Linked DNA regions of Homo sapiens: all the other regions are linked to region 2. The links come from fine-mapping of genetic effects on gene expression. A gene starts in region 2. Each other region holds a variant in brackets. All regions are shown on one strand. Distances are from middle to middle. Region 1 overlaps MKNK1 (MAPK interacting serine/threonine kinase 1). Region 2 holds the start of MOB3C (MOB kinase activator 3C). Region 3 holds the start of KNCN (kinocilin).

The links.
Region 1: its variant is fine-mapped to the expression of MOB3C in whole blood (TOPMed, PIP 0.94).
Region 3: its variant is fine-mapped to the expression of MOB3C in whole blood (TOPMed, PIP above 0.99).

Annotation. Positions count from the first base shown.
Region 1 is chr1:46,574,848-46,583,021 of GRCh38, reverse strand. MKNK1 (MAPK interacting serine/threonine kinase 1) reads left to right here. Exons shown (of 13, transcript NM_001135553.4): 4 at 2,395-2,492; 5 at 6,368-6,447; 6 at 8,002-8,075. Among named protein-coding and RNA genes, the nearest start is that of MKNK1, 25 kb to the left of the region's middle. The variant T/C (reference allele first, on the strand shown) is at 4,450.
Region 2 is chr1:46,612,670-46,620,843 of GRCh38, reverse strand. It overlaps MOB3C (MOB kinase activator 3C), which reads left to right and starts at 4,033. Exons shown (of 4, transcript NM_201403.3): 1 at 4,033-4,133; 2 at 7,473-7,940. The coding sequence starts at 7,523. RefSeq lists a silencer at 3,859-4,138 and enhancers at 4,539-4,608, 6,960-7,583.
Region 3 is chr1:46,547,393-46,555,566 of GRCh38, reverse strand. It overlaps KNCN (kinocilin), which reads left to right and starts at 3,920. Exons shown (of 4, transcript NM_001322255.2): 1 at 3,920-4,502; 2 at 5,565-5,633; 3 at 6,300-6,374; 4 at 7,758-8,174. The coding sequence starts at 4,352. The coding sequence ends at 7,837. All of the region lies in intron 3 of MKNK1-AS1 (MKNK1 antisense RNA 1), which reads right to left. RefSeq lists enhancers at 5,158-5,797, 7,234-7,734, 7,735-8,174. The variant G/A (reference allele first, on the strand shown) is at 4,322.

The sequences.
Region 1 (8,174 bases), 38 kb after region 2:
GCACTGGCCTCCTGTGAATGGCTCAGGTACTGCTTCCTTTTCAGGGAGCAGGAAGACCCATCTATCAGTGGCATTGCCTGGGGTCTTCCTTTTTTCAGATGTGATTCTTCCCTCAGCTATTCCTGGAGGGGCTGCTGAGAGATAGAACTATATAAGAGGAAGAGAGAAACACCAAAGGCCATGGCCGCAAATGAAACTTCAGTCTCCTGTAAGCAGAGAATTTGTCTCTCAGATTGTAGCTACTTATGCTGTGTGTGTTTGACTACATTTTAAAGAATACGTGTTGTGTTCAGTAGAAACGATGTTGGGTCATCAGACATTTTTTGACACTCTCTGTGTGCGAGGCACTAGGCTCAGTGTGGGTCCTGTTATCACTGGGCATGTGATGGGGTGATTGGACACTTGTGCAAAGCACCAAGAGGATCAGTAGCTACTCCTAGGAGTAACGTGCCCCACTTCATCTGTTTTGTTTTCTTTCGTTGTGAGGTCTGAAGTAGCTTCGCCTCTTGGTCCCTCCTTCCAGCCTTCCAGACACACTAGTGAATTGGCTGTTCTGTAAAGTGGTTCCAATAACAAGCACTTTATCGGTTGGGAATATGGGACCTCCAGCCACCCACCTATCCTGATATGTGTAAAGGGCTAATGCCAATGTGTCCATTGTGAGAAGCATGTCATTTAAAACACTTACGAATAACAGTGTGCCATCTGCTCTTATAAACAACTGAAAGACCAAACCGTGATGGAACCAAGAAGGTACTTTCAGCAGGGGTTTTTTGTTTGCCTTTAACTCAAACAGCAGGGGTGTGTGTCTGTGTGTGTGTGTCTGTGTGTGTCAGGGTATGGGGATGGGGGAGAGACAAAGATCCCAAGGTATTCAAATAGTTTCCTAATCAACAGCTCTTTTGCTCTTTCAGTTAACACAAGAGAGTACTTCCTATTTTTAAGGACAGCTTGTGCAATGACAGGACTTCTCCTGACTGAGAGTGATAAAATCTAATTCATGGTTGAAATGTCTTCTGCTCAGGCTGTGGGTTTCAATGCTAGGTGCCTCAAGAGGAAAAGGCTGAAGAATGGAGGCCGAGTGGGGATGAGGTCAGGCAGCTAGTGCTGTGATGGAGATGTAGCCTCCTTTGGAAGGGGCTCAAAGAGCTGTGCTCTTTGTGAGCTTGGGCAGGTCATCTAGATGTTCCTTTAACCCAGGTCTATTACTCTGTTAGAACAACTATGACTCAGTACCCTAAAAACCTCAAGGTGTCCTTTGCATCCTACTTCTATTTCCTGTGGGTGACTTCTGGAGACTTCTCAGAAGCCTCCAATGACTTCCATGTATGGGGTATAAAATAGAACAGTGTTTTATTCTCCTTTGTATAGCCAGTGCTTACACAGAACTTGGCACATAATAGGTGCTCAGTAAATGAGTAAATGAATATTCATTCAAATCATACCACTTCTCCTCTGATGATCCTCCAGATTCTCTGACCAATTTTTTTTTTTTTTTTTTTTTTTTTTTTTTGATATGGGGTCTCACTCTGTCACCAGGCTGGAGTGCAGTGGCACGATCTTGGCTCACTACAACCTCCGCCTCTCGGGTTCAAGCGATTCTCCTGCCTCAGCCCCCGAAATAGCTGGGACTTTAGGCGCGTGCCACCACACCCAGCTAATTTTTGTATTTTTAGTAGAGACGGGGTTTCCCACATTGGCCAGGATGGTCTCGATTTCTTCACCTCTTGATCTGCCCACCTCGGCCTCCCAAAGTGCCGGGACTACAGGTGTGAGCCACCATGCCCAGCCTCTCTGAACAGATTTAACCCTTTCTTCCCCCAACTTTTTTTTTTAACTGTACTTTGTCCCTCTGTGATAGTATTTACCAATGCCTGGTTTATTCTGGGGTCACCTGTGTATGTGTCTGTCTTCCCCACTGGACTGCGACCCTTAGAGGAGAGGGATCATGCGTATATATATTTTAGAGATGGGGTCTTGCTATGTTGGCCAGATTGGTTCTGAACTCCTGGCCTCAAGCAATCCTCCTGGCTTGGCCTCCCAAAGTGCTAGGATTACAGGTGTAAGCCCCTGCACCTGGCCTTTATTTTATTCCTTACTCTGTTATGCTGTCTGGCACATAGTAGATATTCAGGAAGTATGTGCCGAATTGAGACCCTTTTGCTAACCTCATCGCTAAAATGAGGAACAGGATGCCTTGTATGTGGTCTTGTTGTTGAGAAACTGGGTCCTCAGGTGGCTGGGAAAGCTACTTGTCTTCCTTGTCACTGAGTGCTAGAGTCATTGGGTGCCTGTGTCGTCTGATCAGGGAAGCTGAGCCACAAAAGTTCTTCCCATCTGAGCTTGCAGTAGGGTGACTCATCTTGTTATTCCTCTCATCCATTTCACCTCTAGATATGTACAAGCTGACCTCTGAATTGCTTGGAGAGGGAGCCTATGCCAAAGTTCAAGGTGCCGTGAGCCTACAGAATGGCAAAGAGTATGCCGTCAAAGTGAGTGTCTCAGCTGAATGCCAGGCTTTACTTTGCAAATAGTCATTCCTAGCTCATCTTGAACCAAATAAATGTTATATTCCATAAGAATGGGGACTCTGAAGCTGTATTCACTGGATTCAAATCTTGGTTTCTCTACTTACTGTGTACCTCGGGCAAGTTACTTAACTTCTCTGTCCTTCAGTTTTCTCATCTGTAAAATGGGTATAATACTAGAACCTATGTAGAATTGTTGTGAGGATTAAATAAGTTAATATAGGTAAAGTGCTTAGCACAATGCCTGGCTCATAGTAAGTTTCTCATTATTCTGACAAATGAAGTCAGCTTCAGGGAGTGGACAACCAGATTTGGAATTAGAAGGCCTACCTGAATATCTATTTTGACAAACTATAACTGTTTGACTTTGGGCAAGTCATCAAATGTCCGTAAGCCTCAGTTCCTACATCTCTAAATGATGATACCTGCCCTTCAGTCTCCTGAGGCAGTTATGAAGATGAAAATTAAAATATCCTGGGAGAGGTGGAAACACTTTACACGTCACAAAATGCTATCCAAGTGTTAGATGTTAGCATGATAGTGAGGATTAAAAACTAAGGTGACTGATTTGGTAACATCTGAATGATGTCTCAGAAAAAAAAAATTAAAAGAAGAAAACAAAACTAAAGCGACTGAGCACTCAGTTTTGGGGCAGGAGAAGTGGCTTCTGGCCTCATTGCTGCCTTTAATTAGCTGTAAGGCCTTGGAGTGGCTCATGTCACCCCTCTGTGCCTCCACTTGCCCTCTCCACATGGAAGAAGAGCTGGATCTTGAGCAGTGGTTCTCAAAATGTGTGCCCTGGACCAGCCTCAGCATCGCTTGGGAACTTGTTAGAAATAGAAGCTACCTGGCCCTACCTGAGAAGTACCAACTCAGAAACAGGGGTGGGCCCAGCAATACAAATGTTAACAAACTCTCCTGGTGACTCTGACACTCACTAATCCTTGAGGACTACTGTTGTAGGAAGGGCAGTTGTGAATGCTACTATGTGTTAGAAGCCCTTAGAGCTCTAACAAAGCACACACAGATCCAGGTTTCCAGATGTAGGATAGGGTCTGGATCTCTGTGGCTTGACCAGATTCCCCACTTGAGTCTCATAGCCACCAAAGTTTGAGGACTAACTGACCTAGAGAAAGGGTCTTTTTAAATCCAAGCTGATTTCAAATCACCCACCTGAGCCACCAGGTCAAATGCCACCTCACATTGGCAATCCCAGCCCAGTGGGCTCCTGAAGGAAATGTTTTCTCTTCTTTGAACCAACTTTCCACAGTCCCAGCTGCGGGTTAGAAGGTTGAGCAAGTCTGCTAAGCCACGTTCCTTTCAGCTGGAGTATTGCTTCACATGGTAACAAGAGCACTGTCTTAATTTCTTTTGGGAAACAGCTCAGTATAAATTACAAGTGATTTTTAAAACATACGCCTAAGTGTAAATAGAAAAATTAGGCCAGGCATGTGGCTCACACCTGTAATCCCAGCACTTTGGGAGGCTGAGGCGGGCTGATCACCTGAGGTCAGGAATTCAAGACCAGCCTGGCCAACATGGTGAAACCCATCTCTACTAAAAATACAAAAATATTAGCCGGGTGTGGTGCATTCCTGTAATCCCAGCTACCTGGGAGGCTGAGGCAGGAGAATCCCATGAACCCGGGAGGTAGAGGTTGCACAGTGAGCCGAGATCACACCACTGCACTCCAGCCTGGGCGACAGAGCAAGACTCTGTCACAAAAAGAAAAAAAAAATGTTAGCCTGGTGTGGTGGCATGTGCGTCTAATTCCAGCTACCTGGGAGGCTGAAGTGGGAGGATCACTTGAGCCCAGGAGGCAAAGGTTGCAATGAGCCAGGATGGTGCCACTGCACTCCACCCTGGACAACAGAGGGAGACTCTGTCTCAAAAAAAAAAAAAAAAAATTGATATATCTGTC[T/C]AAATGCGGTAAAAACCACAAACATAAACTGATTTTCAAAGGTTTCAATACATTTATGGATGAGAGGTATATTTCTTCAAGGTTGGATAATGGGAGGAAAACCTGGCCCTTCCTCCACATCCCCCCTGGCATCTTTGAGGCAAACACTGGACTCTGGCTTGGCAATTCCTTGGTTTCAGCAGTTCTGCCCATGTTTCTTCTCTCCCCTACTCTTTCAAAGCTCCCTAGAGATGGGCTACTTCTCCCAACATGGCCCCACAATACTTAGCTTATTACAGCTTTTCCTATAGGCACCCAGCTGATCCTAGACTCTCAAGGTTGGGATGGAATTTCAAGATAACCCTGAATTTCCTCTGACTCCCCAGATAGTTGTCCATGTTCTGCTCCCCCATCTCTAGTAGCAAGAGCCCATTACTTCCTCAGAGAAGACTGTGCTGTGGAAGGCTTGCCTGCTAGAAAGTTCTTCATGACTTTGATCTGAAATGCTTGGGGAATGAAGTTGAATCACTTCTGTTCCCCAGCACTACACCTCTCCATTCAGATAATGGGCCCACTGTGGTTTACAAACAGACACACTTATTTAGAAAATTGCAGTTGGTCACAGATGTCTGTGCCACATCATATCGGAGAAGTTTGAAGTCTCAATGAAGGAAGAGGATGTCATTGTGCTGCCCACTGTGCACGTTGGAGCTGTAAGGCAGAGCTAGGCTCTGCAGATTTGCTCACAGGCTCGGTGTGCAGTGGTTTGAGGCTCCAGATGGGTCCAGAGAGCTTTGCAGAGGCAGCCAGTCCCTTTGGAAACCACCCTCCCATCTGTTGGCTTATCTGTTCCTTCAGTCAGCATTTGACAAGCATCTCAGGTAAAAGTGTGGAGGGGGAGCAGCCCACCGTATCACAGGAGAGACAAAGCCTCCAGGTCCTCGAAGAAGTTAGAGCATCTAAGCAGGTATGGGATAGCAAGGGCTTAGGAGTCAGCTCTGGACTGCAGGCAAATGTTTCATACCTCCCTATCTTTTGATGTTGTCATAAAGGTCAACTGAGATTATGTAAATAAATTATTATTGTTTATTTATTTATTTATTTATTTATTTTTTGAGATGGAGTCTCTCTGTTACTTAGGCTGGAGTGCAATGGCACAATCTCGGCTCACTGCAACCTCCGCCTCCCCAGTTCAAGTGACTATCCTGCCTCAGCCTCCTGAGTAGCTGGGATTACAAGCACCCACTACCACGCCTGGCTAATTTTTTTGTATTTTCAGTAGAGACGGGGTTTCACCGTGTTGGCCAGGCTGGTCTAGAACTCCTGACCTCAGGTGATCCACCCACCTCAGCCTCCAGAAGTGCTGGGATTACAGGTGTGAGTCACCACACCCGGCCGTAAATAAATCATTTAACACAGTATCTGCCAGAGAGTAAGTTCTCAGAAGAGGAAGAGCCTACTTCTGCCAGGGGGATCGTGGAGGCAGCCTCTGAGCTGGGTGTCAAAGCTTTAGCTCCTCGCCACGGTGTCCTGCATCAGCCTCTCCCTCCAGCATGAGAAGATCCTTCAGTAGATGCAGTAAATGCTTACCCTTAAGGCAGAAAGAGGTGTCCACAGGAGGTGGAGCTGAGTAAGGTAGCTCTTTGTCTTGCCGGCTGCCTCAGTCTCCCCTGGGCAGCTGGGGGCAGCAGCCTCATTCACTTCCTTGGTGTTGTGCTTGGCCAGAGTGGAATGGGCTCAGCTGAGCTGGAAAGCCCTGAGGCCAGTCTGCTGCTTTGCCAACAGAGCCACAGTGCCGGTGTCACCAAGGCCTAGGCCAGACTTCTGCTGGACACTGGATTTGGACTGAGTGTGGCCTTGCATTCTCCCAGAGGACTCCTGCCAAAGGGCTGTTTGGAAGTCAGGTGGGTGTACATGACAGATTTTATTCTTCCCACAGATCATCGAGAAACAAGCAGGGCACAGTCGGAGTAGGGTGTTTCGAGAGGTGGAGACGCTGTATCAGTGTCAGGGAAACAAGTGAGTATCATGTGATTCTCGCTGCTTCTCTGGGGGGACGCTTGGCCACAGAAGAGGAGGCTATTTCTTACCATCTCCTGACTCCAGCATTTAGCTCTCACTCCTGTCCCCACAAGGCAGGTACCTCCTTCCGCCCCTTTCAGTGTTAGGGAGAGAAAGGAAAAGCAGCAGTAACAGCAAAGGAGCTATTATCTCTTCTGAAATACTGTAAATATCATCAATTCAAGCAAGTTAGAAGAATGAACTATCTGAATCAGTGGTTGTTGGGGGGAAATGGGGTTTTATTTCTTTCGGTACCTGTGGAAACTAGGTTGACTGAGTGTTGCCTGGTAGAAATCTTTAAGGACTTGCCTTAATACCAAGATGAGGAGAACTGTTAAGAATATTTGCTGCTGTTTCTGCTCCTAGAATGTTTACATATGTGCAGATACCACTAAGATCCTGGAACCTTCCAGATAGCTGGGTCCGGCTCATCTCTAGCCCCAGTTCATTCTGCCCACCACCAGCTCCAAATGAGCAGCTCTCCCACTGTGGCTTTAAATCAGGGGCACCTCTAAGACTCCACTTCCCCCTCTCTCCCTCCACGGTAGGGTCAGCAGGGAGCCAGTGGCCTGGTATTGATGGCTTTGTCATTAAGCTTGGAGGATTGGAGGACGGGGGCTGCTGTTGATTTAACTCCAGGCACTGCCTCCACAATCTTCTTTCAAATTAGGCCATTTTGCCCATCTTATTTGGATGCCTTCACACTAGTAAAAGCCTCATATCTCCCAAAGTAGTCAGCATTTTTTTTATGAGGGACAGATTTTTATTTTCAGCCCTGCAGCTTCTTAGTTCAGCATTAGAGACTCTACTTGGTTTATTTTATTTTGTAAAAGAAAAAAAGCCCACAACACCTCCAATATCCAGGCTGGTGGCTTCCCTACTGAGTTACAAGACGACCTTGTTGGCAGAGCACTGAAATACTCGGGCAGACAGAGAGTGCTCACCGGGGAAGGCCACAAGTGCTACAGTGGCCAGGAACGCGGCCGTTTCATTAAGCAGCGCTTAGCAGTTAGGGTCTAGCGGTGCCCATGTTAGGCCCCAAGTCCATTTGACAGATGTTTCCATTTTCTCCAGGCAATGTAAATACTGCCCCGTGATTTATGGGCAAGAGGGAGGGCAAGTAATTATTTGCTGCTTGCCTCCAGGACACACACCTAGTATTCAGTGTTATTAGCCGCAATTGCTTCCAGTCGGCTGCAGATTTTATTCAGTTTAATGTGACCGGGACTTTTTTATAACTCTACCTAGTGGGTTTTAGGGCTGGGGTTTGACAGCACAGACTTGGTGAAAACACCAGAGACTAAACATTATGGAAAGATAAGGTGACCTGAATCTTGCTAACACCATTGGCTGCTTCCATACGCGGGTCTTTAATAAGCATTCTGATTTCAAGTTGGTTTCTGCCCCACTACCAGGTGTTGTATATTTTTTTCATTGTATATTTGTAAGTAGACTTTAATATATAATACCATTTCCCCCCTTTTCCCTCTCCTCCTATTTTCCCTATTTAAGGAACATTTTGGAGCTGATTGAGTTCTTTGAAGATGACACAAGGTTTTACTTGGTCTTTGAGAAATTGCAAGGAGGTACTTACCGTTGAGTATGTGTGTGGACTTCTGATTAAGACCCAGGGTGGTGATCATCCATCATGAATCCCAGAGACTTCCAAAACGAGTCAAGCTAAT
Region 2 (8,174 bases):
CTTAGAGGCAAGACGGCCCTCCCCGTCTCTGGAGGGACTGAAACCCTCTGAAGTCCATGTCACCCGGGACTGGTAACTTCTGCTTGCACCACTCCCTCTTGAGAGAACAGCACAGCCATCCCGGCTGCATGGTTGGACAGCTCTGATGTGCCAAGCGCCCCTTCATATTGTCCTGGGTGTCTGCCCACTGCTCTCCAGGACCCTGGAACAAGCTCAGTCCCTCTTCCACACAAACACCTGCTGGGTGTTTGAAGGCAGTACCCCTGAAACAGACTGACCACAGCCTTCTACTGTTTACAAGTGCTATCACATTTGATTCTCTCAGCTCTTCTGTGGGGCAGATGTTGTTGTTGTTGTCTTTACTTTAGAGAAGGTGAAATAGGCTCAGAGAACAAGTGCCTTGTCCATGGTCACACAGAATTTTAGTGCATGTCCTTGTCAACCTTGTCTTCCCCTGCCATCTTCCCTTGAACCTTGTCTTCTTCAAGTGAAAGGAAGTTTAACCTCAATTCCTCTGACTGCCGTAAGGGTGCCCATGGCATTCTCCTCAATGGGCCAGGATGGAAAATCCAGGACGGATGATCCTGCCTCCTGGGCAGGGAGGGGCAGAAGCTGAAATGGAAACTCTTTCTTGGGAGAGAGTGAGTAGAGGGTGGGCCCTATCAGGCTATAGTAGCTGCCAGACATCTGGTAAGGTGAACTGAGGGTGCAGTATCTTATTCTGGGGGGCAGGGTGGGAGTGGGGGAGCTTTCTTGGCATAGGAAGGGCTGGGGAGTCCCCAGGAAGTGGCCACTCTGTATCAGTAGAGTCACTGGATACAGGCCTACAGCGGGAAGGCACAGGAAGCTGGTTCTGATAAGGTACTTGGAGTGGTACTTCGTATGGCTAGAAGATGCTTTCATGGTAGAGGTGTAGAAACTAAGGCCCAGAGAGGGGCAAGGGCTTTCCCAAAGGCACACAGCAGGTAGACACCACCCTGCTGCCACTCAGAGTTCCCACTGCGAGGGGGGCATGTGCCCAGGCTGAGTAGTGGAAAAGGGCACGTCCTCTCCTAGGTCCTCACTGGCTCACGCCAAGCTTCAGAGATGAGCCTTGTTTGAAGTCTTCTGGAGCCATTTATCATACTCAAGACACAGTGGCAGGGAACAGAGCCCATCTTGTGTAGGTCTCCAGTGCTGGAGGGTTACAGTGTCTCATCAGAGAGGGCAGAACCATCCCAAGGCCACACAGCTAAATTACGGTAAAGCCAGGACACTGTTCTCCAAGGTCTGGGTCTTTTCAGCCCCAGCAGAGCCTCCTAGAAGAACTAGTCTCTCTAACCAAGACTGAGAAGGGCAGGAAGAGGGTACAGGTAGTTGAGAGATCTGGGCTCTCTCGCTTCCCCCAACCCTTCCACCTGCCTCCCATCCCACAGACACCCAGGGACTCTGAGGATGAGCTGGGAATTTCTGATGTTCCTTCAAAATGGATCATCTCTATTTCCCACAGTGTAAGGTTCTGTGCTGTTCACTCTTCACCAGAAAAACTCCTGCCTATCCTGTAAAACCCAGCTCAGAGGTCCAGAAAATGACCCTGCACAAAGCCTCTGCAGAGGAAGTCACATCAAATTCTGAAGAATCTTCCAGACCATGATCTCTGACCACAATGCAATATAATTAGAACTCAACAAGAAAAACATAAACCTCCCATAGGCTGAGAAACTGAAAAACATACTTTGAAATCATTCAAGAGTTAAAGAGGAAATTACACTGAAATTTATGAACTATTTAGAACTGAATGATAAGGAAAACACAAGCAGTTTCCAAATCATTTCCCCTATGAAGTCAGCCCTGACCCCACATGGCTCCTCAGATGGCTCTCCACCCTCTACCCATTTCTACGCCCTAGGAGGCTGACGTCTATGGGCTGCAGCAACAGGTTCCCTTGTTCTTAGCTTCTGGGAGGATTCAGCTAGTGGGGGAAACCTGGCCAGAGATCAGACGGAGGGAGAGAGGGAGGAGAGTGAGGCCTCTTACTTGCCCCCTGTCCTTCCCTGTATGATTGCTGTGAGCTGGGTATGCCCCTCCACCTTAGGCCACAGCAGCGCCCTCCTCATAGCTCCCACTTTCACCATTCCTTCCCCACACTCCTGCAGCCTGGGGTTGACAGCCTCTGCTCTTGTGAGCCCTTTGGTGATACACTGTGTGGTTTCCCTACACCTTGACCATACCTGTAAATAATGTCTTCATTAAACATACCCATTCTGGGTGTTCCATGTGCTTCCTGCAAATACCCCGACTCTTACAAAGTCCGTCAGTCCACAACCACATTCTCACTTCTGGGTGACTGAGCTGTGACCTTGTGTATCTCTGTGTGTTGTCCCCTTTACTGACCTGTCAGCACCTGAGGTCGGCAACCAGGTCAGCTTTATCACCCAGTCCCCTGATCTGATATGAGTGGAGAGTTATACTCAATAAAAGATATTGATTAGGATATCAAATAAATAAAGAAGCATAGTTTAATTTGCTCCATAAGCAAGTGTTTGTTTATAGGGGATTCAGGGCAGAGAGTTAAGAGTCAGACATAAAAATACAGAGAACTTTAGACTGGGGCAAAAATTGGTGCTCAACAAAAGAACATACCCACAGTTCTATGAGCTGGGATTCTTTCTTTACTTTTATTTTAGGTTCAAGGGTACATGTGTAGGTTTGTTATATAAGTAAACTCTGTGTCATGGGGATTTGGTGTACAGATAATTTCATCACCGAGGTAAGCAGCATAGTACCTGATGGGTATTTTTGTCTCATCCTCCCTCCTCCCGCCCTCCACTCCCAAGCAGGCCCCAGTGTCTGCTGTTCCCCTCCTAGTATCTATGTATTCTCATTGTTTAGCTCCTACTTGTAAGTGAGAATATGCAGTATTTGGTTTTCTATTCCTGTGTTAGTCTGCTTAGGATAATGGCCTCCAGCTCCAGCCCATGTTGCTGCAAAGGATATGATCTGGGTTAAGGATCTAGCGTGTTCTCATGTCATCCAGCAACAGAAGGTCCAGACACAAGGGAGGTCCAGTGTGCCATGGTAAATGCCCACCTCTGGCCTCCAGCTCTCCCCTACCCGCATCTACTCACCTCCCACCCCTCCAGAGTGGCTTCTATGGCTAAGCTCTCTGCTTTGGGCTTCCTACCCTAGAAAGCCTCCAATCTTCCCTCCCATCCCAGACAGAGCAGCCAACTGGTCCCTGGGCCTGGGGGCCACGGTGTGCATTGAATGCTGGTGGGATATCTGTCTGTCCTCGAAGGAACCCAGGTGGTAGGGAGAGCAGATCAGATCTTGAGTGGTTTGGATTTGTCAGAAGGAAGGAGGGAGAGAAGGTATTCTAAAATGGAACAGCTGGGATAAGGGTCTGGAGATAAGAAATGGGGTGACTCTGGGTAAGGAGCAAGGAGAATCAGCCCAACCTGAGCCAGGCCCCCTCCCTGGTGAGGAGATGAAGTTTGTGATTTGAGCGCTCTTCTGGGGCTTGTCCCTCAGGGGTGAAGGACTCAGCTCATGATTCCCAAGGCGTTCATTTATTCCTTCACTCACCCATTCATTCATTCATCAAGTGGGTTTTGAGTTCCTGCTATGTGCCAGGAGCTGAGGATATGGGAGTGGATAGGACGGTCCCGATCCCTTATTGGGTCCCGGGACAAGTGTGACGCAGACGATTCTAGGAGGGCAAAGAAACCACCCTTATCTAGCAGCTCTTGTTTCTGCTCCAGAAGAAGCCGAGCGTTTTCCCATTTTACTGTCTGGGAACTTGAGGCTGCCTCCTTGGTGGAGGTCCAAGGAAGCACCGAGAGGGCGGGCAGCTCAGTTAGTCCTTTGTCCAAGGGGAAGCTGGGAGCCCCATATGGACTTTCCGGGAAGGTGGGGGCGAGTGCGTCTGTGTACTGGAGTGGAGGGGAGTCCCCTTTCTCCGCCCCTCCCCGCCCCGTGGCCGCGGCGTGGCGGGGCCGGGGCGGAGCTGGCGTCGCCCGGGGCAGGAGGGCAGCCGCGGCCGGCAGGACAGGCAGACGGACAGGCTGACAGGAGAGAGAACAGGCACTGCGGGACCTGCAGGAGAAAGGCGATCCTGTGGCTGGGAATGTGACCCCACGGCCAGAAGAGGACCCGTGAGTGTGCGCCGTGCCCCTGCGGCCTCGCCGCGCACCCCGCCCGCCTGGCTTCCACTTTCATTTCTTCGGCCGTCCTGGCGTGGCACAGTCCGGAGGAGAGTCCCGCCCGAAGGCAGGCTGGCCGCTGTCCTGAGGCTGGCGTCCGAGGCTCAGAGCTTCGAAAGTTGCGGGGGGGATTGTCGGGGTGGGGGAGTACGGGGCAGAGGGGAGGGGTTGGGGGGCGTGTTTTCGGGGAGCGGAAATGTCAGGCGGGCTCCTCTGGGTCCTACGACCTTCCTGGCCCTGGGAGCTGGTTTGAGGTTGCAGGGAAGCCGGGGGTGGGCGTGGGTGGCTGCGCGCCGCGAGGAGAGCGTGGAGTCTTCGCCTCTACTTTTTCTCTTCGACCTCTGTCCTAGAGAGAGTCCCAGGATGGATTCTGGGTTCAAACTGGGGCCATCCTCTGGCCCAGATCCTGGGCCAGGCCCAAGGAGTGGTAGATGTAGCCTAGCAGGGGGCTAAATATCAGAAACAGGTAGGGTCAGCCTGCTGTCTTCATTTGAGAAGCCCAGATCCGCACCCAGGGAACGAGCAAGGCACTGCCACTCCAGGAGTGAAAGGATAGCCATCACTGGGAAATGGGGGCTAGGACGGGGAACGGCAGTGGTTCAGGGAGAGACAGAGGTTCTGTGACAGATAGAAACTCAGTGAGGGCATGGGGGTGGGGAGTGAAGGGAGTTAACCCTGTGGCTAGAAGAGCACCTGCCCTGCACCCACCCCCTGAGCTTACATTTTCCTGGAAAGAGACCCAGGCCTTGAAGTTCCACAGGAGTAAGGTGGAACTCTAGCTCACTGGTCAGGACACCCCAGTTGCTGTGCGGAGTCAGTGTGTTGGGGACAGGAAGCAGGTTGGGCTGTTTGGTGGAGAAGATGCTTCCACTGTCCCTCCACTCCCCTCCTCTTCTCTGTCTCCACCAGACCATTGATGAGCCAGTGCAGGAAAATGGTCTTTTACTCTTGGTCATGAGCTGAGCCCCACCTTATCCCAGTTCCCAGTTCTGCTTGTAACTTGCTATGTGGACACAGGCTCCTCAAGTCCTCTTTTTAGGCCTCAGTTTCCTCATCTGGGCCTCAGTTTCCCCATCTGTACAAGTGAGTTGGGCCAGCTGATCTATCAGGGCTATTTTAACTCTAAGATTCTAGTCTAAGCTTTCCTTAAAGCCTGAACACTGACTTTGTGCCAGGCCTTGTCCTAAGCTGGGGGTGGGTTGGGGATGGAGTGGAGACTGCAATGACCAAAAGCAGCCTCTACCCAAGGAGAAGGAGATCTGAGTTCAGGAGAGGAGGCTGTGGGAGGAGGTAGCAGCCAATCTGAGGATGTGTGGTCAGGCAGGTGGAGGGATAAGAAAACATGCAGAGGCAAAAGAGTGGGGGCGTGTTCAGGAATCAGGAAGAAGCCCAGGGTGGTTGGTGTGGGGAGGTGGGAAGTGGGGCAGGAAAGGTAGGACAAGGTGCTGAATGCCAGGGTGGGGGCCTATTTCTAACTGTCATAAAGGGGGCCATGCAATGTGGGGAGCCCAGGAGCCCCGCCTAATTGCAGTGTGAGGGATTTTGGAAGCACTTGCCCCAAGCAGAGTTTAAAATGGAGATGGCAAATGAAGCGCAGAAATCTCTTTGCTCTGGAAACTGGGGTCCCACCCTGGGGACTTCTTTGGGTGAGAAGTCGAAGAGTCGGGATGGATGAGATGACCTTTCACATCTGTGAGTTTTTTTCAAGAGAACAAGTTCCTGCTGAATGGCCTGTTTCTACTCTCCAAGCTGCTCTCATTTTACCAGACTGCCCCCATCCTGGCCTGCCTTTGTGGGTTCAAGGAAGGACCTTTGTCTCAAACAGCTCCCCAGCTAGTTTGACTTCTTGCCAGAAGTAATACCCCTCCCCGAAATATGTGCCATCCCTTTGCTTTTACCCAGGTGTCACCTGGTTCCCACCCTCCCTTCCCCAATCCTGTCCCAGGGTTACCAGAGATGTGAGAAAGGACAGTGCTCCAGCGTCAGAGGTCAAGCCCAGGCTTTGGCCATAAGCAAGCCTCAGGGTAGGGCTAAAGGCTAGAGTCAGGGCTCACACTTGCCAGAGCCCAGGTCAGAGGTCAGCCAGGAACCAGAATGCAATTCTTAGCTTATACTCAGCCTTAGTGCTCAGTCTAGGGGCAGGGGCAGTGTGCTTAGTGGGTGGCTAAATTCTAGTTTTGGTAGGTACATGGGTCTGCATTTCCCAGTAGCTCACACACTCACAGTTGAGATGAGATGACTCAGGTCTTAGAAACCTAGCTATAGCAGAGTGACCCAGGACCTGGATGGGCTAAATCCATGGTGATACAGGGGTCACCCAGTAAGCCAGTGGTAGAGCTGGGACTAGAACCCAGGACTCCTGCCTCTGAGCCTAGGGCCCTGATCACTGTCTCCCAAAATTTGTTCTGAATCTGGGATCCTTAAATTCTAGGAGGCAAAGTAAATTTGCCTGAGCTCTAGATGGGCCCTCCTGGGTGCATCTGACTATACTCTTCTACCTCCCAGTGCCAGGCACATAGTAGTTGCTAGAGGAATGTCTACTGAGTGTCAGGTGCAACGGGAGGAGCCAGTGGCTTGTTCAGATTTGGGGCTGGAGGAGGCTGGCTTGAGGGGAAGGATCTCCAGCTGTTGTCAGAGGAAGCGACGCCCTCATTGGCCTGCCGCCCTCCCCCTCCTCCAGTGCTTGCAGCCACACTCAGAAGCCGCCCAGCTGGCAGCGGGAGGGCCCTTTCCTCTTTCAGGGTGAAAAAAAAGGAAAGGACATTTTTGGTAGAAAAGTTCCCTGCTGCTCCCTGGGAATCCCCGGTGGCCGGATGGACTACGGGATATCCCAGAGGAAGCCGAAAGCCACCCCCGACCCCCCTCCACCCTGCCCCCAGCACAATGCTGCGAGGCTCTCCCACGTTGCACCAGCTGGCCAAGGGGGCTCCCAGAGGTCATCTCGTCCAAGCCCCTGTCTGCTGGTGGGCCTGCAGGGAGCCTCTGCGACCTCTCTCGTGACCAACAGCAAGTCTGAGGGGCACCTGTTTAGAGCCCAGGCCCAGCTCTGCAATGAAAGCAGAAAAGAGACAAAGCAAGATGGGAGGACTGTGGGGGCTTAGCAAGGGGGACTAACATAGCCTGGAAAGAGGGCGGGGCACTGGACCTAGGGGCTGAGGACTTAGATTCCAGGCAGAGGATGCAGAGGTTGAGCAAAGGCTGAGAGGTGACAGGGAAATGATGAATTGGGAAGTCAGAGCCCAGATGATAAGGCCTTGACCGCCAGCTCCCCTATGCCCTTGTCCCTGGCAGGGTATCCTCAGGTCCGAGCCCCTGGACAGCAGCCCCAGGCCCAGCTGGCCATGGCCCTGTGCCTGAAGCAGGTGTTCGCCAAGGACAAGACGTTCCGGCCGCGGAAGCGCTTTGAGCCGGGCACACAGCGCTTTGAGCTGTACAAGAAGGCACAGGCCTCTCTCAAGTCGGGCCTGGACCTGCGCAGTGTGGTGAGGCTACCACCCGGGGAGAACATCGACGACTGGATCGCCGTGCACGTGGTGGACTTCTTCAACCGCATCAACCTCATCTACGGCACTATGGCGGAGCGCTGCAGTGAGACCAGCTGCCCGGTCATGGCCGGCGGGCCCCGCTACGAGTACCGCTGGCAGGACGAGCGCCAGTACCGGCGGCCCGCCAAGCTCTCTGCGCCGCGCTATATGGCATTGCTCATGGACTGGATCGAAGGCCTCATCAACGACGAAGAGGTCTTTCCCACGCGTGTTGGTGAGTGTCACCTGGCGGGGAGGGAGCCACTGGGAGCCCATTCCACAGATGAGGATTTAGTTTGATATAGACACTCTGCAGGGTTGGGGGTTGATTTTCATCCCCATTTTGTGGAAGAGGAAAGCGAGGTTGAAACAGGTTAAGTGCCTTGCTCAAGGTCAAGCATTTGCTAGGACTTCCTGACTCCCAATTTGGGGCTTTTCTTTCTTTTCTTTTTCTTTCTTTCTTTCTTTT
Region 3 (8,174 bases), 65 kb after region 2:
TGGTACTGTCCACGGTTTGAGACATCCACCAAGGGCCTTAGAACGTGTCCCCGAGGGATAATGGGGGACTCCTGTATTTACTGTTATCTACCAGGGCAGAATTACACAACTCATGGTCCCAGTGCTAGAGACGAGCCCTCCCTGGTCCTTGGCTCCGGGAGCACTCTACAGAAGCACTGTGTGCTGTGGAGGTAGGTCTGGGCCTCTTAAGATGAGCCAGGACTCTGTCCCTCTGTAGGATCCTCCGGCAGACAGGCTGCTCCACCCCTCCGGGATGCAGTCCCTGGCCCAGAGGGGCAGCTGTGGCACAACAGGAAGAGCCTGAAGTTCGGACCTGAGCCCTGGGTTCCAGTACTGCCTCTGCCACTATTCACTGGTGACCTTGGAAGTCCTGGCTCTGCTGGACAGAGGCAGATCCAGCAGATGCACTGAGGAGGCTCTGAGACCACAGAGCCCCTTCCAGGCATAGGATCTGCGATAATGGAAGGCAGCTCCCCAGCTCCAGAGCTCATGCGTGGGCGGGGCCTAGAAGGAGAGCACTGGTCCCAGCCAGTTGGAGTGTCTCAAACCTCAGGTCTCTCTTCTCAAACCTAGTGATCAGGCCTTGGCCCCAGCCCCAGCCCCAGCCCTGATTCAGCTGGATCCTGAGGACTCCAGTCTGAGGGCCTCTGGGCACAGGGACCGTCCAGTTTTTGTCCCTCTGTGTGTCTACCTGCCTGGGCTCTGGGGGCGCCTCCTCCCTCCTGGCCGACTGCCCTCCCACACCCAGCCCCATGAATAGTGGTGCCTTGGTCCCATGCCAGCACTCCAGCCGCTTCAGGTCTGGAGGGGGCTGAGGAGCAAGGTCCCCCAAAGGCTGGCACTCTTGTTGCCATGGTAGCAGTTGCCTTGGAAGCCACTTCCCTGACTTCAGCTTCCAAATGGTCCAAGAAAGCTACCTGTCCCCCGGGGGATTGGTGAATTAATCACGCTCTTTTCCAGGGTTCTCACCCCTCAAGGAAAATAAACAGAACCAAACCAAACTGGGGCCTTTTCGCCCACTGTTCCTCCCCACCCCCACGCCACACTTGGACTTGGTGCACTGAGAAGGAAGGAGCATGGGCAGACGCTCCACAGTCCTTGCCTCAGCAGGAGACAGAGAGAAGAGACTGGGTGATGGAACTCAGCAATGTGCCCGTGGCCTTGCCATGCCTGAGAACTGTGGCCTCCAAGAGCACCCAGGTTCAGCGGGGAGGCTCCAATCCTTGGGAGGGGTGGAGGGTTGGTGGGGCGATGGAGCCCTGGTGCCTTGGGCCTCCCTCTCAGCATGGCTCACAGAGAGGTTCCTGAACTCACTTACCTATTGCTCTGAGCACGTCACTCAAGGACACACATTTTCTTTTTCAGAGATGATATAGCCCAAACTGAGGAAAGAATTGGCAGGCCTCCCTCTCTACATCACAACTGTTTTGGGAACCTTTAATGATGCACTCCTGGTCCTGAGGGAAAGAGGCAGGCCTTGACTGATTTTCATTGTTTTGTTTTGTTTGTTTGTTTGAGCCAGGATTTCACACCCATCGCCCAGGCTGGAGTGCAGTGGTGTGATCTCAGCTCACTGCAACCTCCTCCTCAAGCGATCCTCCCACCTCGGCCTCCCAAGTAGCTGGGACTACAAGCACACACCACTGTGCCTGGATAATTTTTGTTTTTGTAGAGACAGGGTTTCACCATGTTTCCCAGGCTGGTCTTGAACTCCTGGCCTCAAGCAATTCTCCCGCCTCAGCCTCCCAAAGTGCTGGGATTGTAATCCCACAGTGCCTGGTCCCTTGACTAATTTTTTAACTCAATGTCTCCCTCTGAAGGTGGGTCTGCCAGTTCCTCCCACCTCAACTAAGACAGTGTTGAAATTCAGGGGCAGATAGGCCAGAGTACTTCCCAGAGGGGCAGAATCCATGAGGACTCTGGGGCAATTCCTCTGTCTCCCCATGTCTTGGATTCCCCACCTATATGAAGAGCTGGGACGGCCCTGGTTCTGTGATCTTGGAACTGAAAAAGGCTTAACGTGCCTCTCCTTTGAGATCACAGTGTTTTCTGAGATCTGAAGCAGTGCACAGGTGCCTCTGCCACCCCCATCCCCATCACCAGACAAGGCAGTGGGCTCAGGGAGGTGGAATGGCTGGCCCGAGCCCCATAGTGCGAGGTGGAAAACGCGGCCCCAAGAGCTTCTATCTTGGTGAGGGTGTGAGAGAGTCGCCCTCAGCCTTAGACTTTGAGAGGAGCAAGGAACACGTTTCATGGACAATTATTTTGGTGGCTCCTTCTAAAACTAAGTCAGTGGGGGATCAATTATGTGTGACAGAGACATGGGCTATGATTTGATGCCTAATTAGAGGAATAATCAGATCTCATCCAGGCAGGAGGCACAGCAGATGCTGGCAGCAGCACCGTGGCTGGGGAATGCCCAGCTCCAGGGGTGTTCCCTCTGTGGGGAACAGGAACACAGTCCAGGGCCCATCTGTGTGCTGCAGTCACCCCTCTCTACAGACTCATCATGAGCCGAAGCTCCAACTCAGGTGACCCTGGGCCTTCTCAGGCCCCCTTCTCCACATACAAGGAATGCCTCTTGTTAGAGACAGAGGTTCCCTTGTGTCCACAGCCCTCCTCTTTGATGACTGGAGGTGGTTGTGCAGTCCAAGCCCTCTCCCTGAACTCTGTCCTCATGTTCAGAAGCCTAGCTCAGGTCCCTCCCAGCCACAGCATTCTGGGGAGCTCACTCCTGGAACCTGCCCTCAAGGGGCTCTCAGCCTACAGAGGAGATAGAACAAGAACAGGGCAGCCATGGAGGCAGGTGGAGGAACAAGAAGTTGAGCCTGGCAATATGAGACTGCAGATGCAGTGCAGAGAGGGGGCATCCAAAGAGAGGCCAGGGAGGCTGGCGACGGGACTCCGAGCAGGATTATGGGACCCTAGGAATTGTGCCCAGGTGCAGGGCCAGGCCGGGGCCATATTCTGAGACTGGGGGGTCCCCAATCCATAAAGGGCCAAATAACGCAATGAATGATAAAGGCTGGAACTGGGGGCCGGGGCAGGGCTCAGGGCTAGGCTGCATTGGTGACCACTGCCCAGCCTTGGGGTGGGGCATCCTGCAAGTAACTCAGACAGGCTGGGTGCAGGTGCTCAGTTCAGCGGATGGGAAGGCACCAACCATGACCCAGCCTCCCACTCCCGGCACCTAGCCCCTACCAAGTCCTCTTCTCTACCCTACCCCTTAGGTGTTTTCCTCCTGCCCACACCAGCACCACCACTGCTCTTCCCTTTCACTCCCAGTCGGGATCCCCAAGGTGGCTAGAAGGGTTCACTCTCCATTCCACTGGCCACTAAAAGGGGGGTGGGTACCAAGCCCACCTGAGGACAAGGGAGTCCCCTGAGATCAAGCCTCAAACTAGGACGCCCTCAGCCCTACCTGGGAGCCCAGAGGTGGACAGGATGGGGATGGGATGGGCAGGGGTAGGGAGCAGACTTGGAGGGATGCCTCTCCCTGTCCGCTTTCCATACCAGGTGCAGTTCCTGTCTCTTGAGCCTCCTGCTGTGTGTCTATCTCAGACTCCAAGCAGAGACCCCAGGTGCACCTCCAGGCCAAAGGGCAGAGCACATTACAGCGGGCCCTGAGCATGTGATCAGGAGTCTCCTCACATCCCTGGCTTCTGAACGACATGCAAAGCCACCAGCTCGTTCTTCCTCCTCAGGAACCAGCAGTGGAACCTGGGCTGACTGCCCGCTGGGCCCTGGGACCCAGACAGCCACTCACATTGCAACCTCATGAATAACTCAGCACCTCCCTGCTGCCTACATCTCTGAGGAGCCTGTGGCCGCTGGACCAACTCCCCCCTCACCCTGCCTCTCATTGCTTTAAATTTTCATAGGCTGAGGTTCAGTGGCAAGTAAGTGGCTCTAGGAAGCTGGGGCAGGATGTCCTGGGCAGGGGAGCTTGAACTCTCCTGGGTGGAGGCTGGCAGGGAAGGATCCTATGGAACAGGCCCAGCTCCCTAGAACTCTGGCAGCCAAAGCAGAAATGTAGCCAGACAGGAGTCCCAAGGGTGGGCTTCAGCTTCAGAGGGCTTTGAGAGAGGAAGAGTAAGCTGGGTGACCTCGTACAGATCCCTGGTCAAGGTGGGACTGGGGGGCCCGTAGTGGAGCAGTGGAATAGGACTGCAGATAAATCCCAGGGTTCCCCACCTATCATCTTACTGCCCAGAAACTCCTACCCTGAAGTTGGAGCGCCAACAAGGAGACATCCAAGAGCCCAGAAACTTCCAGGACTTTTCTGGGGCCAGACTGCACC[G/A]GCTGGAGGCAGTGCCCCGGGTGGGCCTGCATGGACATCCCCATCAGCAGCAGAGACTTCCGCGGCCTGCAGCTGGCCTGCGTGGCTCTCGGGCTGGTGGCTGGCAGCATCATTATCGGCATCTCCGTATCCAAGGCTGCAGCTGCCATGGGCGGTGTCTTTATTGGCGCTGCTGTTCTGGGTGAGCAGGGGCTGGGCTGGGATAGGGAAGGGAGATTCTGGAGGTGGGGGCAGGGGCATCGTCAGGTGAACAAGGAACAGGGAAGGGCTGGGTCAGCAGGAATCAGCTGGGGAGAACGGAAGCTAGAGGTGTGAGCAAGGCCGCCATCAGGGGCACAGGCGGGAGAGGAGCGACGCGCTGGGGCTCCTTCCAGCCACAGGGAGGAGAAAAGAAGGAGAGCTGGCCGTCACACTCTTTTCTGGCTACTCCCACTGGCTCTCCAGCCCCAAGCTCTAGGCTCCTGGATTTGTGGTGGGATTCATCAGCCTATCTGGGCGGAACAGGGGGTTGATGGCGGCAGGTAAAAGGACAGAGCTCCTGAGGACTCTCTGAGCCAAGACAGGCTCCAGCTCAGAAAAAGGGTTTCGTCTTCTTTCCCTGTTTGCCTCCACAGCAGCTGTGTCCATCTATCTGTGTGGGGCCACGCCCACTGATTGCCCCGCAGTGACGCTGAATGCCATCCCTCACCTCACCTCACCTCACCCCACCCCCCGCCCCCGCCCAGGCCAAAGGCAGGACCAGAAGCATCAGGCTAGGGGGCTTTAGGTATCTACACCTGCGGGTTCTGGCACAGATGCTCATCGGGGGATGGAGCGGGGGCGGGCAAGGCAGGACTGGCTCCACTGCTCCTGCTCCCCAGGTCTGGGTGGGGAGGAACATGCTGAGGACAAGCACCCAGTCCGGCCCTGGGGGCCCTGGGGAAGCGTGGGGACAGCAGAGACGCAGTGGTGGTGTCAGCCAGGCTCATTCCAGCAACCTGCTCTTCACTTAGGAACGGTGGAGCCAGGCAGGTGGGGCCTTCACAGTCTGTAGCCTCTTCCCCAAACAGGCACTGCCCCCACCAACCCAGATGCACACACCCACAGGCTCACATTTACACACTCACAGTCCCAAGTCTGCACACTGTGCTCCTCCCATGCACACCCATATCTCACAAACCACCCCTCAGGCTCCCAGCCCACCCACAGCCTCAACACTCACCAGGCTCCTCCCCATCACAGAACCCCCTGTGTCTCTTCTCAGGGCTCCTCATCTTGGCCTACCCCTTCCTGAAGGCTCGGTTCAACCTGGACCACATCCTGCCTACCATAGGTGAGGCCTCTCCCTGACCCCAGCAGACCCCTCTGCCAAGGACTGTTCCAGACCCTTTGTGTGCTCGTCTGTGACCCACTGTGTGGCTGGGATGAGCCCATGTGTGAGACCGCGCTAGCTGTCTGTGTTAGAGCTGCTGTGTGTGTGTGTGTTGTGCAGGCGTTGCCATGACTACAGAACGGCAGAATCCAGCCTGCAGCAAAGGTGCCTGAACCAGCTCAGAGCTGGGAAGTTCATCTCCCTTGAGAGATTTTATGACTCCCCAAAGCCTCCAACATCTCTAAATAACTCCCTCTCCATCCCTGAGCCCCCATGAAAGACCCTCTATTTCCCCTAAGACCCCACAGCCTCTGCACAGCTCCCACCTCATCTCAGCTCCCCACATACAGGCTGCCATCTCCACCAATCCTATGGGGCTTCTCATGGCCCCAGTTCTCCCCGGGACCTCACCTCCCTAAAAGATCTGCCATTTTCTCCTTCAAGGGCCCAGTTCTTTTTCTCCTGCCCAAATCAGCCCAGATCATGTGAGACCTAAAGGAATGCAGTGGAGCAAAGACAGCATCAGGGATGGAGACTAGATAGCAAGAAGGACTTCCCTTCCCAACCTAGGCTTGATTTGGGGAATGGCTCAGTAATCAGGGGGCTTGGGGTGGTCTCATCCTGCAGGGAGCCTAAGAATCCATCCCCATCCAGGGGCAGACCACGGGGAAGGAAGATCCAGCACCAATGGCAACAAGGAAGGTAAGTTCCAGAAATTCCCGAGTCCATCCTTCTTTTTTCTTTTTTTTTTTTGAGACAGAGTTTTGCTCGTGTTGCCCAGGCTGGAGTGCAATGGCATGATCTCGGCTCACTGCAACCTCCACCTCCCGGTTTCAAGCAATTCTCCTGCCTCAGCCTCCCGAGCAGCTGGGATTACAGACATGTGCCACCACGCCTGGCTAATTTTTGTATTTTTAGTAGAGACGGGGTTTCTCCATGTTGGTCAGGCTGGTCTCGAACTCCCAACCTCAGGTGATCCACCCGCCTCGGCCTCCCAAAGTGCTGGGATTATAGGCGTGAGCCACCGTGCCCAGCCTGAATCCATCTTTCATCTCCCCTCCCTGACTGAGCAGCTCCATGGGGCCCGGGAGCCTTGAGCGGCATGCCGAAGGGGCCTCCCCAGTGCGGGGAGACGGTACTGCTGGCACTTTCCCCAGGTGCACAGTCAGACCCTTGCTGCTCCAAGCTGAACTGATCTCCTCTTGCTTACTCTGAGGGCTTCTGTCTTGCCCAGCGTGGACACTGGAATGAGGGCACCTCCCTGCCCCTTCCCCTCCCTCCCTTTCCCCTCCCCCAGGTCCTATACCTCAGTTTATTTTCCCACTCCCCTCTCCCATCTCTCCCAGGGTCAGAGGAACTCAAAGGGACCCAAGCTGGGGTTCCCAGTGCCCAGGGCAGAGCTGGGATAGAATGGGGAGGGGGGGACATGCCAGGGGACAGTTTCAGCCCAGTTTAAAGAGGCCATGGGTACCAGCTTTGGGTACTAGCTTTAACCACCCCAGTTTAAAGTTCATACCCCAAACTGGGCATCTCCTTGTTCTTCCACCCCACACCTGGAAAGTTCCAGGGCAGGAGTTTCTCAAAGATGGTCCCAGCCCAGTCTCTGCCACCAGGGGTTGGATGCCTAATACTCAGTGAAAGGCCCCATTCCAGACACTGTTCCCAGCCCTGTTCATCTATTATTCGCTCTTTTAAGTCTCACAACAACCACATGAGGGCAGCACTATCATTAGTTTCATTTTACATAAGGGGCAACCGAGGCACAGGGAGATTTAGTGACATGCCCAAGACCACACAGCCAGGAAGTGCGGCAGTCAAAGCTCAAACCAGGCAGTGGGCTCCGGGGTCCCGCCTCTACCCCCGGCCTATGCTGCTGCCCTCTTGAAAGCCATCCTGACTGGAGGTACCTCTTTAAACTGGGCTGAAACTGTCCCCTGGGATGCTCCCCTCTCCCCATTCTATCCCAGCTCTGCCCTGGGGTCAACCAGGCACCCCGGCCTTGGGTCCCTCTGAGTTCCTCTGACCCTGACAACTCCATGGGGACCTGTCTACGGAGGCAGTCCTCGTCCCTGTTCTCTCCCCCAGGAGCCCGCAGCAGCCTGTCCACCGTGAGCAGGACCCTGGAGAAGCTGAAGCCGGGGACCCGGGGGGCTGAGGAATGCTGAGGCAAAGTCTGAGCGGCTGCCCATGCCCTGCCCTCCCATCCTGCCTGCTGCCCCTATGTCAGTGCCCTCCTGGGTTAGGAGACCCGGACCGGAGACAAGCCAGGCCCTGCAGACCCCAGAGCGGCTGGGAACAGTGTCTGGAATGGGGCCTTTTGCACTCGCCCGGCCAAGCCTCTCCAAAATGGATTCCACTGGTGTGGGCTGGGACCTGGAGCAAGGTGTCGCCGGACGCCCCCACAGGGTTCCCATGTTTCAGGCTCCTGCCCTGGCCTTTCTTTCTGGACTGCAGCTCAGCTTTGTTGCCTGTTCAATCTACTGATTTGTTTCTCTGGAATTT